Regions from separate parts of the Homo sapiens genome. Here all the other regions are reported to be linked to region 3. Evidence: microRNA targets listed by miRTarBase, many of them from high-throughput screens and not tested one by one. Region 3 holds a microRNA gene; each other region holds the end of a gene's coding sequence.
What was found. The annotated mature microRNA hsa-miR-548am-5p reads AAAAGUAAUUGCGGUUUUUGCC and lies in region 3 at 1,137-1,158, shown strand. An mRNA with a match to its seed (bases 2 to 7 or 8) in the 3' UTR can be bound and repressed. Matches are read on the target gene's strand: a 7mer-m8 pairs with bases 2 to 8, a 7mer-A1 pairs with bases 2 to 7 and ends in A, and an 8mer does both.

Region 1: the mRNA of TMEM30B is a reported target of hsa-miR-548am-5p. Seed matches in the 3' UTR shown: 7mer-A1 at 3,059-3,065.
Region 2: miRTarBase lists SLC43A3 as a target of hsa-miR-548am-5p. Seed matches in the 3' UTR shown: 7mer-m8 at 2,301-2,307.
Region 4: the mRNA of NECTIN3 is a reported target of hsa-miR-548am-5p. Seed matches in the 3' UTR shown: 7mer-m8 at 392-398 and 7mer-A1 at 515-521.

What each region holds. Positions count from the first base shown.
Region 1 is chr14:61,277,565-61,280,819 of GRCh38, reverse strand. TMEM30B (transmembrane protein 30B) reads left to right here. Exons shown (of 1, transcript NM_001017970.3): 1 at 1-3,255. The coding sequence ends at 728. It also overlaps a transcript of PRKCH not described here. Among named protein-coding and RNA genes, the nearest start is that of TMEM30B, 2.1 kb to the left of the region's middle. RefSeq lists an enhancer at 57-1,020.
Region 2 is chr11:57,404,723-57,407,958 of GRCh38, forward strand. SLC43A3 (solute carrier family 43 member 3) reads right to left here. Exons shown (of 14, transcript NM_199329.3): 14 at 2,232-3,174. The coding sequence ends at 3,070. Among named protein-coding and RNA genes, the nearest start is that of PRG2, 16 kb to the left of the region's middle.
Region 3 is chrX:16,625,213-16,628,212 of GRCh38, reverse strand. It overlaps MIR548AM (microRNA 548am), which reads left to right and starts at 1,128; the gene lies at 1,128-1,201. All of the region lies in intron 14 of CTPS2 (CTP synthase 2), which reads left to right.
Region 4 is chr3:111,133,941-111,136,940 of GRCh38, forward strand. NECTIN3 (nectin cell adhesion molecule 3) reads left to right here. Exons shown (of 6, transcript NM_015480.3): 6 at 1-3,000. The coding sequence ends at 275. Among named protein-coding and RNA genes, the nearest start is that of NECTIN3, 64 kb to the left of the region's middle.

The DNA of each region.
Region 1 (3,255 bases), not on the chromosome of region 3:
TCTACTACGAGCTGACCAACTTCTACCAGAACAACCGGCGCTACGGCGTGTCCCGCGACGACGCGCAGCTGAGCGGACTCCCCAGCGCGCTGCGCCACCCTGTCAACGAGTGCGCCCCCTACCAGCGCAGCGCGGCCGGCCTGCCCATCGCGCCCTGCGGCGCCATCGCCAACAGCCTCTTCAACGACTCCTTCTCGCTTTGGCACCAGCGCCAGCCCGGCGGGCCCTACGTCGAGGTGCCGCTCGACCGCTCCGGCATCGCCTGGTGGACCGACTACCACGTCAAGTTCCGCAACCCGCCGCTGGTCAACGGCAGCCTGGCGTTGGCCTTCCAGGGCACGGCGCCCCCGCCCAACTGGCGCCGGCCAGTCTACGAGCTCAGCCCCGACCCCAACAACACCGGCTTCATCAATCAGGACTTCGTGGTGTGGATGCGCACGGCGGCGCTGCCCACGTTCCGCAAACTGTACGCGCGCATCCGCCAGGGCAACTACTCGGCCGGGCTGCCGCGGGGCGCCTACCGCGTCAACATCACCTACAACTACCCGGTGCGCGCGTTCGGCGGCCACAAGCTCCTCATCTTCAGCAGCATCTCGTGGATGGGTGGCAAGAACCCCTTCCTGGGCATCGCCTACCTGGTCGTCGGCTCCCTCTGCATCCTCACCGGCTTTGTCATGCTGGTCGTCTACATTCGCTACCAGGACCAGGACGACGACGACGAGGAGTGATTCCGGCTTTCCAGGGATCCCTCCTGCTTCTTGCCAAAACTCTTGCAAGGTGCTTTTGGCATCTCCTCCTCGCCCGTCACCCAATTCCAACCTCGCCTAGCTTTTCCTCCCTTTGTGAATGAGGGGACCAGATAAGGGAATTACCCCCCTTGCTCTTGGGGGGCTGCTAGACTGTCTTGCCGCGGGGAGGGATGTTGACTGCAGAGTGAAACATCCTTGCAAACTCTTCCCACCTCCTTCACGACACTGAGTTGCCATGTGAGGTTCTTCAAGTCTGAGAGTGGAAGGGATCCCTATGGAGACTCCTATTAAACCCCTATTAGAGGAAGAGATTGAGAGACCTAGCAATGTGAAGTAACAAAGATCAGGCAGCTGCAAGTGACTCCTGAATCTTGAGTCCAGGGCTTTCGCCACTACAGTACAGTGGTTTTCTTTTCTTTGGTCGGGGAGAGTGGGCTGGAATGGAGAGTGAGGCCCACAAATTACCTGCAGAGACGTGGAGGCGTGAGGGAGAACATGCTTGTTAAATATGCAGGTAGATTAGGAGACACCAAACAGAGATTCAGACACAGTAAGGCTGGGATGAGATCCTCGAAGCTGTGTTTTAACAAACTCCACTGGAGAGTCCCATATTCCCTCAAATTTGGGAATCACGACCCTGAACCAGGTTGGGCCTGAAGCAGTCAACTGAATTCACTTTTTCGGATAGTAATTTGTTCCCAGGGGCAGTGACAACCATGATGTTCCAGGTTTGGTCTGGCACTCTGCCTTGAACGTAGGAAGCTCTTGATGATTTGTGGAATGAATTTTTAAAAAATTACTATCTGGGGAAAACTAGTTGGCATACAGAGTTGTAGGACAGGGTTTATGTGATTCATTTGATATTTTAGTATTTTGGTGTAAAAGCCAACAGGCAAACTTTGCCAGGTACTGTGTAGAAACTCGAAAATGTGAGGCCAGTTTGTACAGTTCAGAGGAAATGCTTTAACGTAGAATCAGATAGCTGGAAGAGATCTTCGAGGGAAAGTAAGTTCCCTAAAGTCACATCTATGTCTCCTAGCTCAGTGTTCTTTGTCATTGTGTGTGTGTGTGTGTGTGTGTGTGTGTGTGTGTGTGATTAGAAAGGGCTTCATTCATACCTTTTCCCTTGGACCTGGAAAAAAAATTTTTTTTATCTTTTCAAATGAAATCTATTGATTTCTAGTAATCATATTTGAATCAATGTTAAAGCATATATAGTCTTATATGTAAACTAGATTCTTAAGATTATTTGAACCTTTGAGATGAAGTTTACACTCAACTAAAATCATTCCATTGATTTTATTGATTAACATCAATCAGTATGTTTAAAGTTATTCTAAGAAGCAATAGTTTATTTTTAAAAACCTTGTATAGCAAAATAACTTAAAACCCTTTGTGATATCATCTTACCAGTTTATTTGGTAAAAACAAACAGTTATTTGGTATTTGTCAGAATTCTTCAGTGCCTGCTATTACAGCTATTTTCCAATTACTAACTTGATTATACTCACTCAAGGCAGTGCAAGATCTTGAAGTACTTTTTAGCAGTTAAGTAATATTGAATTGTATTGAATAGTTTACATAGTTTATTCTAGTCTTTGAAAATTACTGAACATGGACAATGTGCATGTCATTGACATCTGCCTTAGAACTTCTGGGACAATCCTGATTCGAGAGATTCTATCCCATTATTTACATATACCAAAAATACTTTGTTAATTTAATGTGTTGGCTTCCCAACTCCTGAACACGACACAATTTTATTATTAGATTTTGTATGGTGATTTTAGGCTATGAAAACATGATCATTATATGTATATAGATACATTTTTATTTGTTACAAATGTTTGAGCAGCTCACTAGCCCACCCCTCCTCTATTTTGGGTAAGAGAATTTACTACCTTTTTTAACTATGTAGTTGAGAGCAACATGTATTTTGTTATTTTTAGAATGGTCAGTATATTGCTATAAAATTTTAAATGAGACTATGAAAGTTAAAGTATTCTGATTCTGGTTAAATTAACGAATATGGTTCCAGGCCCTGTTCTCTGGGTTTTTGAGAGAGAATAAAGGTTATGTTTGTCTTACCTTTGTTATCGAGTTTGCTGAATTCTTTTGAACGATGATCTTAAAGGCACAAACACCACCAGCCACTTTGCTAATTTCTTAATAGCAGATTTACATTGCAGCAAGAAAACCATCTTTTATAGTAACATTCAGTTAAAATGAACTCAATTCATTGTTAACTTCCTAAAACAGAATTTGAACTTTATCAACCTCAACGTGTATATAAACTAGATAGTCCTCAATACTTTATCAACCTCAACATGTATATAAACTAGATAGTCCTCAAATACTGTTTGAATTTAATAAATGTCAATTTAAAAATTTTTGTAGTAGTCTTCTGCATTTTACTTCAATTATAAATTGCAATTATTTATTGGATATTTTGGACTTCAAAGCAGCAGAAACTTTAAAACTGAAATGGGAAACGTTTTCCTGCAAT
Region 2 (3,236 bases), not on the chromosome of region 3:
ATTTCTTTTTTTCTTTTTCCTTTTTTTTTTTTTTTTTTGAGACGGAACCTCACTGTGTCATCCAGGCTGGAGTGCAGTGGCACGATCTTGGCTCACTGCAACCTCCACCTGCCAGGCTCAACCAATTCTTGTGCCTCAGCCAACCAAGTAGCTGGGATTACAGGTGCATGCCACTACACTCGGCTAATTTTTAGTAGAGACGGGGTTTCGCCATGTTGGCCAGGCTGGTCACGAACTCCTGGCCTCAAGTGATCTGCCCACCTTGGCATCCCAAAGTGCTGGGATTACAGGCATGAGCCACTGCACCCTGGCCCGATATTTCATATTTAAATGGAATCATTAGCAGTTTCTTGTGTCTGGCTTCTTTCACTTAGTCTAATGTTTTCAAGATTCATCCGTGTTGTAGCAGGTGTCAGTACTTTTTTTGATTGCCAAATAATATCCCAAATATGGTACATTTCCTTTGTCCGTTCACCAACTGGTGGACATTAGGCATCTTTTTTTGGCTTTAATATATCATCTGTAATGCTAGCTGTGATCTGTTCAACCCACCACATGCCAAGCACTCGACCTAATTTGTAATCCTTACAACAGCCCAGAGAGGCATGTCTATTTCTCCCACCATACTGACAAAGAAGTGGTCCATCCAAAGTCACAGAGCTGACAAAGTAAGTGACAGAGCTGAGATTTCCAGAAGGGTTTTTTTCCACTGCACCACACTGCACCTCCCCCACCCCCATGTGTTTTTCTGGCTCCTTCTAATTGGTTCTGAGGCCAAAACAAGAATCCACTCATTCAACGATCATTCATTCAACAAGAATTAGCTGGTACCATGTGGATGGTAAGCACAGATTAATTAGAGCCAGGCGAGAACAGACCTTGCCTCCTGGAGTATGCTGCCCAGGCAAGGGGTGGGAGGGTCATGATGTGGAGGCAAATGCCAGTCACCAGGAAGGGTGTGACCAAGTGCCAGGGACTCAGACATGCTGGAAAGCCTGAGTAATGATTTTTGGAGAAGATGACATTTTGAGCAGGATCCCAGCAGACCAGATGGATTTCACAAGCTGAGGCAGGGTGAGCCACCCACGCAGAGGAACTGGTGCACACACAGACCCAGAGACTGGGAATCTTGGTCCACAGGGGTGGGCTCTGCCCCGCTGTTGGTAGGAGGTAAAGAGGGAAGGGGAGAGGTTGAGATCACACTAGTGACAGCCTTGAATGCCAGGCTAGCATCTGGATTTTTGTCCTGTGGACAGTGGGGAGCTGCTGAAAGCTTTTGAGCAGGGTAACAAGACCAAATCCATCCATTAGATTTAAACGCTGCTAATAGACACCACTAGAACTTTGGTGTCCGCCCTCAGACCCAGGCTCCTGGCCCCTGGAAATTACACCCCGACATCCACAGGAAGAAGGAAGAGCTGGGTTTCAGACCCTTCTGCATCTTTATAGCCCCAGCACCCAGGACAGGGCCTGACACGTGGCAGGTGCTCAATAAACATTTGTTGAATGAATGGATGGATGAACCTGCCTGCCACCCCCTGCCTTCCACCCCCATCCCCCTGCCTCCCACTGTTCTTTCCTAGTCCCTCTCCTAGCAAGGTGGGAATGAGACAGCAGGTGTGCCCCAGATTCTCCCATCCCACCCACCTGCCATCTCTCCTCCTGCACCCTCAACTTCTCCCTCTTTGCCCCCGTCCTCCCCAAGGGTCATGAGTAAACACAGGAGCAAACCCTCATGTGCTCCTACCATGTGCTAGGCAGTTGCAATGACTTTACATTCTCACAATCGCCATCAGAGATAGAAATGATTAACTGCACTTTGCAGGTGGGGAACTAGTGACTCAGAGTGGTTAAGGGGCTTGCCCAGCTGCTGAGGGGCAGAATTGAAACTCAAACTAGGAATTTCTGATTCCATCCAGCGCTTCTAGCTGGGGGTGTGTAGTGAGGAGTAGGGTTCTGCTAAAGTTAGTTAAGGATGTGGAGAGGAAGAGGAAGCAGAGGGGTTCCTGGGGGAGGAAGTCTCTGGGCCCACATCCCAGGACCAGCGGGGTGAATCATAGTCAGGGTTCCTGCCCCACCTCTGGGTCCAGCTGCCACACTAGATGTGTAGCCAGATTCCCTACCCTCTCATGCCAGGGTAGGGCCTCCTCAGAAACATACACATACACACAAACACACACACACACACACACACAGCCCCGGCCCAAAGCCTAGAGAGATGGAAACAGTAGTTGCCTTAGACACAGAAGCTTTATTTTTCTATAAAATTATTCCCGAGAGAAATTTTCTTTTAAATGCCCAAAGTAAATAACTTATATCCCTTCTTGAAAACATCCCCAAAGATAGTCTGTCAGAAATCCTTCGGTCAAGCAGGTCAGCTGGCTCCCATGGCCCTTGGGGTGGCCTGACTCTGTCACTATTCCTAAAACCTTCTAGGACATCTGCTCCAGGAAGAACTTTCAACACCAAAATTCATCTCAATTTTACAGATGGGAAAAGTGATTCTGAGACCAGACCAGGGTCAGGCCAAGGTCATCCAGCATCAGTGGCTGGGCTGAGACTGGGCCCAGGGAACCCTGTCTGCTCCTCTTTTTCCCAGAGCTGTGAGTTCTCTAGCCAAGGCTGCACTCTTGAGGGAGAGCCAGGAAGCATAGCTGAGGCCATGACAACCTCACTCTTCACCTGAAAATTTAACCCGTGGCAGAGGATCCAGGCACATATAGGCTTCGGAGCCAAACAGGCCTAAAGAAATAGTTGACACACTTCCTCCCCCAGGTCATCTCCCCTGGAGTCAAGGGTCTGCCAAGGCTAAGTGCAAGGAGACACTTCTGTTTTGAAATAAAGAAGTTCCACATGCCTTTGCTTTGAGTCTGTGTGATATCAATCTGCTTGGCAACTGAGATTCTTTTCTTGCTGCGCAGACGTCCTTGTGTGTCTTTATTTTGTGTGTGTGTGTGTGTGTGTGTGTGTTTTGCTGGGATAGGCAAAGTCTTTTGGGACACGAGGTCCTCAAAGGTGGTGGAAGATGAACAAAACCATCCTCGGGGCTGAAAAGTGAGGGCTTCTGAACTATGCAATTGCAGAGGGACTTTCTTTCCAAGTACGGCATTCCCGATATACCAGAAAGGGGTGGAAGAATGTCAGAAGAATGGCAAGCATGAACATCACATTCACCTGCAGGGAGAGCAGAAGTGAGGTGAAATCCAGGAATTCTGAACAACAGAACTGTTGCTCAA
Region 3 (3,000 bases):
AGAAATGAAATATTTTATAAAAATTGGAGAAATGACATTCTAAAATTCAAAAGTAAGAAATAAAGGAGAAATATAGGAGAAAGTAAAGGAGAAATAAAGGAGCCAGCTGTGGCTGGCTGCAACTCGGTGCTTTCTGCACACCAGTAATTAAGACATTGCTCTCATCACCCCTAGGACCCAGCCACCATTTTGCACAAAAGAAAGGAATCTTAGCAAAGTTAAGTCACTCATCCAGGTCACTTGTTAGAAAGTCATTGAGCTGACTCTTTGACCACCTCACTGTACCAAACGGCTGGACCTTAATCAAAGAAGAGGCAGAAAAACCCAAACAGCTCCCAGAGCTGGATGCTGCCCTCACTGAGAATCCTGAGAAAAGGTTTTGCAGGTTTCGGGGGTGTCTGGTGGGTGGAGAGCAGGGGGTGCAGAAAGCGAAGACCCTACCCCAGGCCTCTTCTGAAAGCCAGTCTGAAACCGCGGGTTTAGCTTAAGGATAGACACAAGCACTGAGTCAGTTTTGCACTGAGCATCTAGGCCAGTAGGGCATGCAGACAGGCAGGTGTGAGAAATGCCACAGCTTAAGCTCAACAATCAGCAGCAGCTACACTGAGCCTTAGAGTTAGAGAGGCAGTAAGGAGTGGTAGGGACTGTGGCAAATCAGCAAGCATGTGCCCCATCAAAGAAGTGACTTCCACAGCTGGTAGTTGTATCAAGAACTGTGGATTCACTGCTGCCAGTCTTCTAAATTTTCAAGAAAATCTGGAAATCTGGAGTTTTATGTAAAATCTCCTGACGTTTAAATGTTGGCAACTTATTTACATTTTTAAAATATTGTGTGTTTGCCAGCACTCTGCAAGCGAAATACAACAAATATCTGCACCCTGGGCAGCCTCTTAGGATCTTTGAATTAGATAAGCACTGAATTAGATAAGCATCAGCAAATTCTTGCACATACGAGAGGGCTCTGGTCCTTAAAATGCCTAATTAGCAGAAGGCATGGTTGCAGGTAGTCTTAAAAGTGAAGTAAATTAAGACACTGGTGCAAAAAGGACATTTGTGTAAAAGCAAGGCAATTCTACCAAGAAAAGAGGTAATGAAGCCCAGCAGGTAGTGGTTTTACTTTTTTATTAAGTTGGTGCAAAAGTAATTGCGGTTTTTGCCGTCGAAAATAATGGCAAAAACTGCAGTTACTTTTGTACCAATGTATTAGATGCTATGGGTGATTGCCTTTAGCCCCCTGGAAATAGGAGATATGGCACCGGGGGAAAGATAAGGATCAGAAGGTATAGAATGGGAGTGGACAGCTATGTGGGTGATAGCTTCCAGGGGAGCGAATGTGGGAGAAGAAAAGAGGGTACAGTCTTGGGCAGGGGTCCCCAGTTGAGGATGATGAACAGGTAGATGGGGCAAAAAGTGCCTGGAGGAGCAGAGGTCACAGAAGGGGAAGGGTGGCAGCTGAAGACAGACCTGCTGGATTTTAGAGAGCAGTTCTGTAAAGTCACAGGAACAAAAGCCAGGTTGCAAAGGGTGGGAGTGGGAGGTTTGAATAAAGGGTGAGTCAGAGCAAGAGGGCATCATGGACAAGAGTGGGGCTGGATGATTTTTGTTTTTTATTTTAAAAATTTTTAATTGTGGTAAAATATACATAACATAAAATGTACCATCTTAACCATTTCCTAGTGTACAGTTCAATTGTGTTAAGTACATTGCATTGTTGTACAGTCTCCAGAACTCTTCTCATCTTGCAAAACTAGAAACTATACCCATTAAATAGCAACTCCCCCTTCCCCTGGCCCCTGGCAACCACCATTCTATTTTCTTTCTTTCTTTTTTTTGAGACAGAGTCTCACTTTGTTGCCCAGATTGGAGTGCAGTGGCATGATCTTGGCTCAGTGCAACCTCTGCCTCCAGGTTCAAGCGATTCTCCTGCCTCAGCCTCCTGAGTAGCTGGGATTACAGGTGTCCACCACCACGCCCAGCTAATTTTTGTATATTTAGTAGAGATGGAGTTTCACCATGTTGGCCAGCCTGGTCTCGATCTCCTGACCTCAAGTGATCTGCCCCCCTTGGTCTCCCAAAGTGCTGGGATTACAGGCATGAGCCACCATGCCTGGCCTCTATTTTCTGCCTCTTTGGGTTTGACTACTCTAGATGATATGGACAGGAGACCGGGAAATACTGGGCAGAAGAGGGCGATTCTCTGGCAAAGGCCCGACCCTCAAGCCTGGAAACCTGTGGCCCTAAATAAGAACAAGCATTCCTGTTTTCACCCCCAAATGTTGCCTTTTGGCCCGCCATGCCCCCTATCCTGTACTATATAAACCCCAAACCCCAGGCTCCATGAGCAGAAGAGTGGTGTGGCAGAGAAGGAGAGAAGAGAAGGAGCATCTGAACATGGAGAGGAGTCCGGCTGGGGACCATTGGAGAGGAGATTGGCTGCTGGACGGCCAAACTCCAGGGGAAGATCATCTTCCCACTCCATCTCCTTCCTCCCCATCCATCCCACTGAGAGCCACCTCCACCACTCAATAAAATCCCCGCATTCACCATCCTTCAAGCCCATGTGTGACCTGATTCTTTCTGAATTCCGGACAAGAACCCAGGCACCAAGAAGGCACTGAGCTGGTTAACACTTAAGCCATCTATGGACGGCAGAGCTAAAAGAGCACTGTAGCAAGCCCAGTGGAGTTTCCGGAGTCACAGGCACCCACTCCTAGACACTACTGTGTGGCTGGAGCCCAAAAGTGTTCGCCCTGGATCCTGCACCTGCCCGTCTGTGTGCTCCCCCTCCCATAAGGGATTTGAGTGCACACAGTGGCTGAACAGATGAGCCATACCTCTGTTGCACGTCCTGTGAGGGGGGTCAGGGAACTCTCTCGTTTTATCGATACCTCCTTGAAGTAGAATCATACAGTATTTGTCCTTTTATGAGTGGCTTATTTCACTTAACATATTGTCCTCAAGGTTCATCCATATTGTAGCATGGGACAGGATTTCCTTCCT
Region 4 (3,000 bases), not on the chromosome of region 3:
AACAAGATGAGCTTGATTCTTACCCAGACAGTGTAAAAAAAGAAAACAAAAATCCAGTGAACAATCTAATACGTAAAGACTATTTAGAAGAGCCTGAAAAAACTCAGTGGAACAATGTAGAAAATCTCAATAGGTTTGAAAGACCAATGGATTATTATGAAGATCTAAAAATGGGAATGAAGTTTGTCAGTGATGAACATTATGATGAAAACGAAGATGACTTAGTTTCACATGTAGATGGTTCCGTAATTTCCAGGAGGGAGTGGTATGTTTAGCAACCACTGAATGTGACTTAACTATGTACAATGTTCATTCACACTAGTTGATCATTTTCAGATTGTTCATACTTTTTCTTGAGGAAGAATAAGCTTTTTCAAGTTGATTTTCAAGCTTACTTTTTATATTCTAATCTGACAAATGAAAATGTAAAATCTGAGTTCAGTGTATCTAAGCTGCTTTACAATTTTTTTTCAATGCTGTACTACTGTCTCAAGATTTAAATTTTAATGCAGAGTACTTTATTGGTGTGAGGCACACAGGTAAGAAGAAATGTCAACATTAAATGTATGACTTACTTGGTACAAAAATTTTTTAAAAAGGGAACTACCTTGACATTGTGTATTAAATGTTTACCTAAGACTATAATCTCAAGTATGATGTTTGTTTAACATATACCTCTCAAAATTTATCACCACTCAATGACACTGCATCAAAATTGACTATAAAACTAATTCAAGAAATATTTATATATATTTTTTAATATACAAAAAATATTTAGCCTGATGGAATGGCTTTCCTTTTCAAACATTATTTTCTAAGTTTCTATACAAATGAAATCTTTACCTCTGCATATTAATGAGCCTTGCCATAATTACTGTAGAGTGGCTTTTCAAAGATATTTTGTTGCACTAAAACTGTGGTAGTAAACTCAGTGAACATGATGTGTGGAAGAGCATAATTAGCTGGTCAATATTTTTGTCCAAAATACCTGCAAGAGTAATAAAATACATACCTTTCAAACATGATAATTATTAGTTTTTTTTTTTCCTTTCTGGAACATGGATTTTGGTACATTAGCAGTAGCCTTATTTTAATGCTTTATGTCCTAAACATACTAATAGAAATGAAAAGACGCAGAGAGAGCATTTCGGAATACTGAAGTACTAGTTTTAGAAATGAGACTTTCAGCCAACAATCTATAGAAAGAATTTTATGGACCATCTTGTTTTAGTTATTTAATGTTGATGTTGTTCAAATGGGTAAATGTACAGAAAGAAAATTTTAGAGTAAACTTGGAACTTTGGATATAACTAGAAAAAACTAGATTATAGAATTAGTCGGTAACACTTGCTAATGGACATTGGCATTCATCTCCTTTTTCCTCCTAAGTGTATGTATGTGTTTTAAGATTTCTGTTTTTACGATTAAAACTGGAAACATGAGGTTTTTTGTTTTTGTTTTTTTACATAATTACATATATTCCTTCTGAATCATTTATCTTTTGAGAAAGAAATGTTACCTAAACTTCAAATGTGCTTTTTGTTTGTGAGGTAATTAAATTGCTTCTACAGTGGAGGCTTACAAAATTATTGTGACAACTATTTTGAAGCTGAAAGGATAGTTTTTCTATTGCTAAGTCATTTGAAAAAGTGACCATTTTGCCAGTGAAATGAAGTGGAAGTTAGTAGGAGAATCATAAATTAAATATATTATTTTGTTAATAAAAAGGCAAAGTAGTAGGTACTTTTTAAACCCTCCCAACCAGCCCTTTCTCAATATTCATCAAATCTAAAACATTTAGGGGGCAAAATTCTAACATGTTCATGGTATCTTGCAAATAGTGAAAGCTTTATTCTGAAGGATTATAAACTAGTTTTCTTCATTTTAACTAGCACTATTTTGTGGAAATTAGAAACCTCTTTTATTTCTCTTCCCAAAAGTAATACTTATTATAAGGCTGTAGTATCAGGTTAAGGATACAGATAAATAAAGTTCACTTATATCTTCTTACAAATGTCTGGGTTTTAATATGGTTAATCACTTATATACAAATATTACAACTTTTTAGTGCAAGTTTTTGGAAGAAAACTTTTTGATAAAACACTGTGATTGATGTGACTTTATTTTTAATTTAAACGATGAGGTGGCCAGAAGAAAGATGGGTCTAAAATTTCTCCCCATGAAAGATGTAAAACTATGGCTTTTTTTAAAATCAAAATTTCATCTTTTAAAATAATGGTTTGAAATACTGTATGGATCTGAACAGAATAATCACATTTAGGATTCTATATAAATCTCAACTGGAGTATAATCTGAAGGAAATTAGCAGTGTATTTTAAGAAATATATTTCAAAAATATAAATACTGATTATGAACTTCCTTTTACATTGTGGTTATTTGTGCGATTAGGTTTTTTTGTTTGTTTCTTTTGTGTTTGTTTGGCGGGAGAGGGTGACCTGGAAAGCCACAAGTGAGTATTTGACATATTCTGTATCCTTAATCCAATCATTTGGCAAACTAAAAGGTTTCTGTGTTGTAAGAATCTGATACTAGTGCTTAAGACTTTGGGAAGCATTGCACTGTTGTTTATTAGAACTTTATGTATATTTACTGTACATAGAGACTTGTTTGAAAACATGAATAGTCATTAAATAAAGACATTGTTAAATTAGTTTTTGAATACCAGTGATATTCATAACTACTTGACAGGTATATATGAAAATTCTACTATCGTGAAAAAAAATGAATATTTGTACTATTTTTGGCCATATTTATATTTATTTCTTTCATATGGTTTGAACTGTTTTAGCATTTTGTAAATTCACTTGAGAGTTTTCTTTCATACTGGTTAAAATATTTCAATGATATAATGAAGATGAATGCAACTCTTATTTTTCTGCCATTTTTTATTAAAATACATTGAAACTAAAGTAGGCTCGGGGTTAACTTTAAAAGTGATATTTGAGAAGTGCTTTAGAGTTGAAAGATTTAGTATTTTAC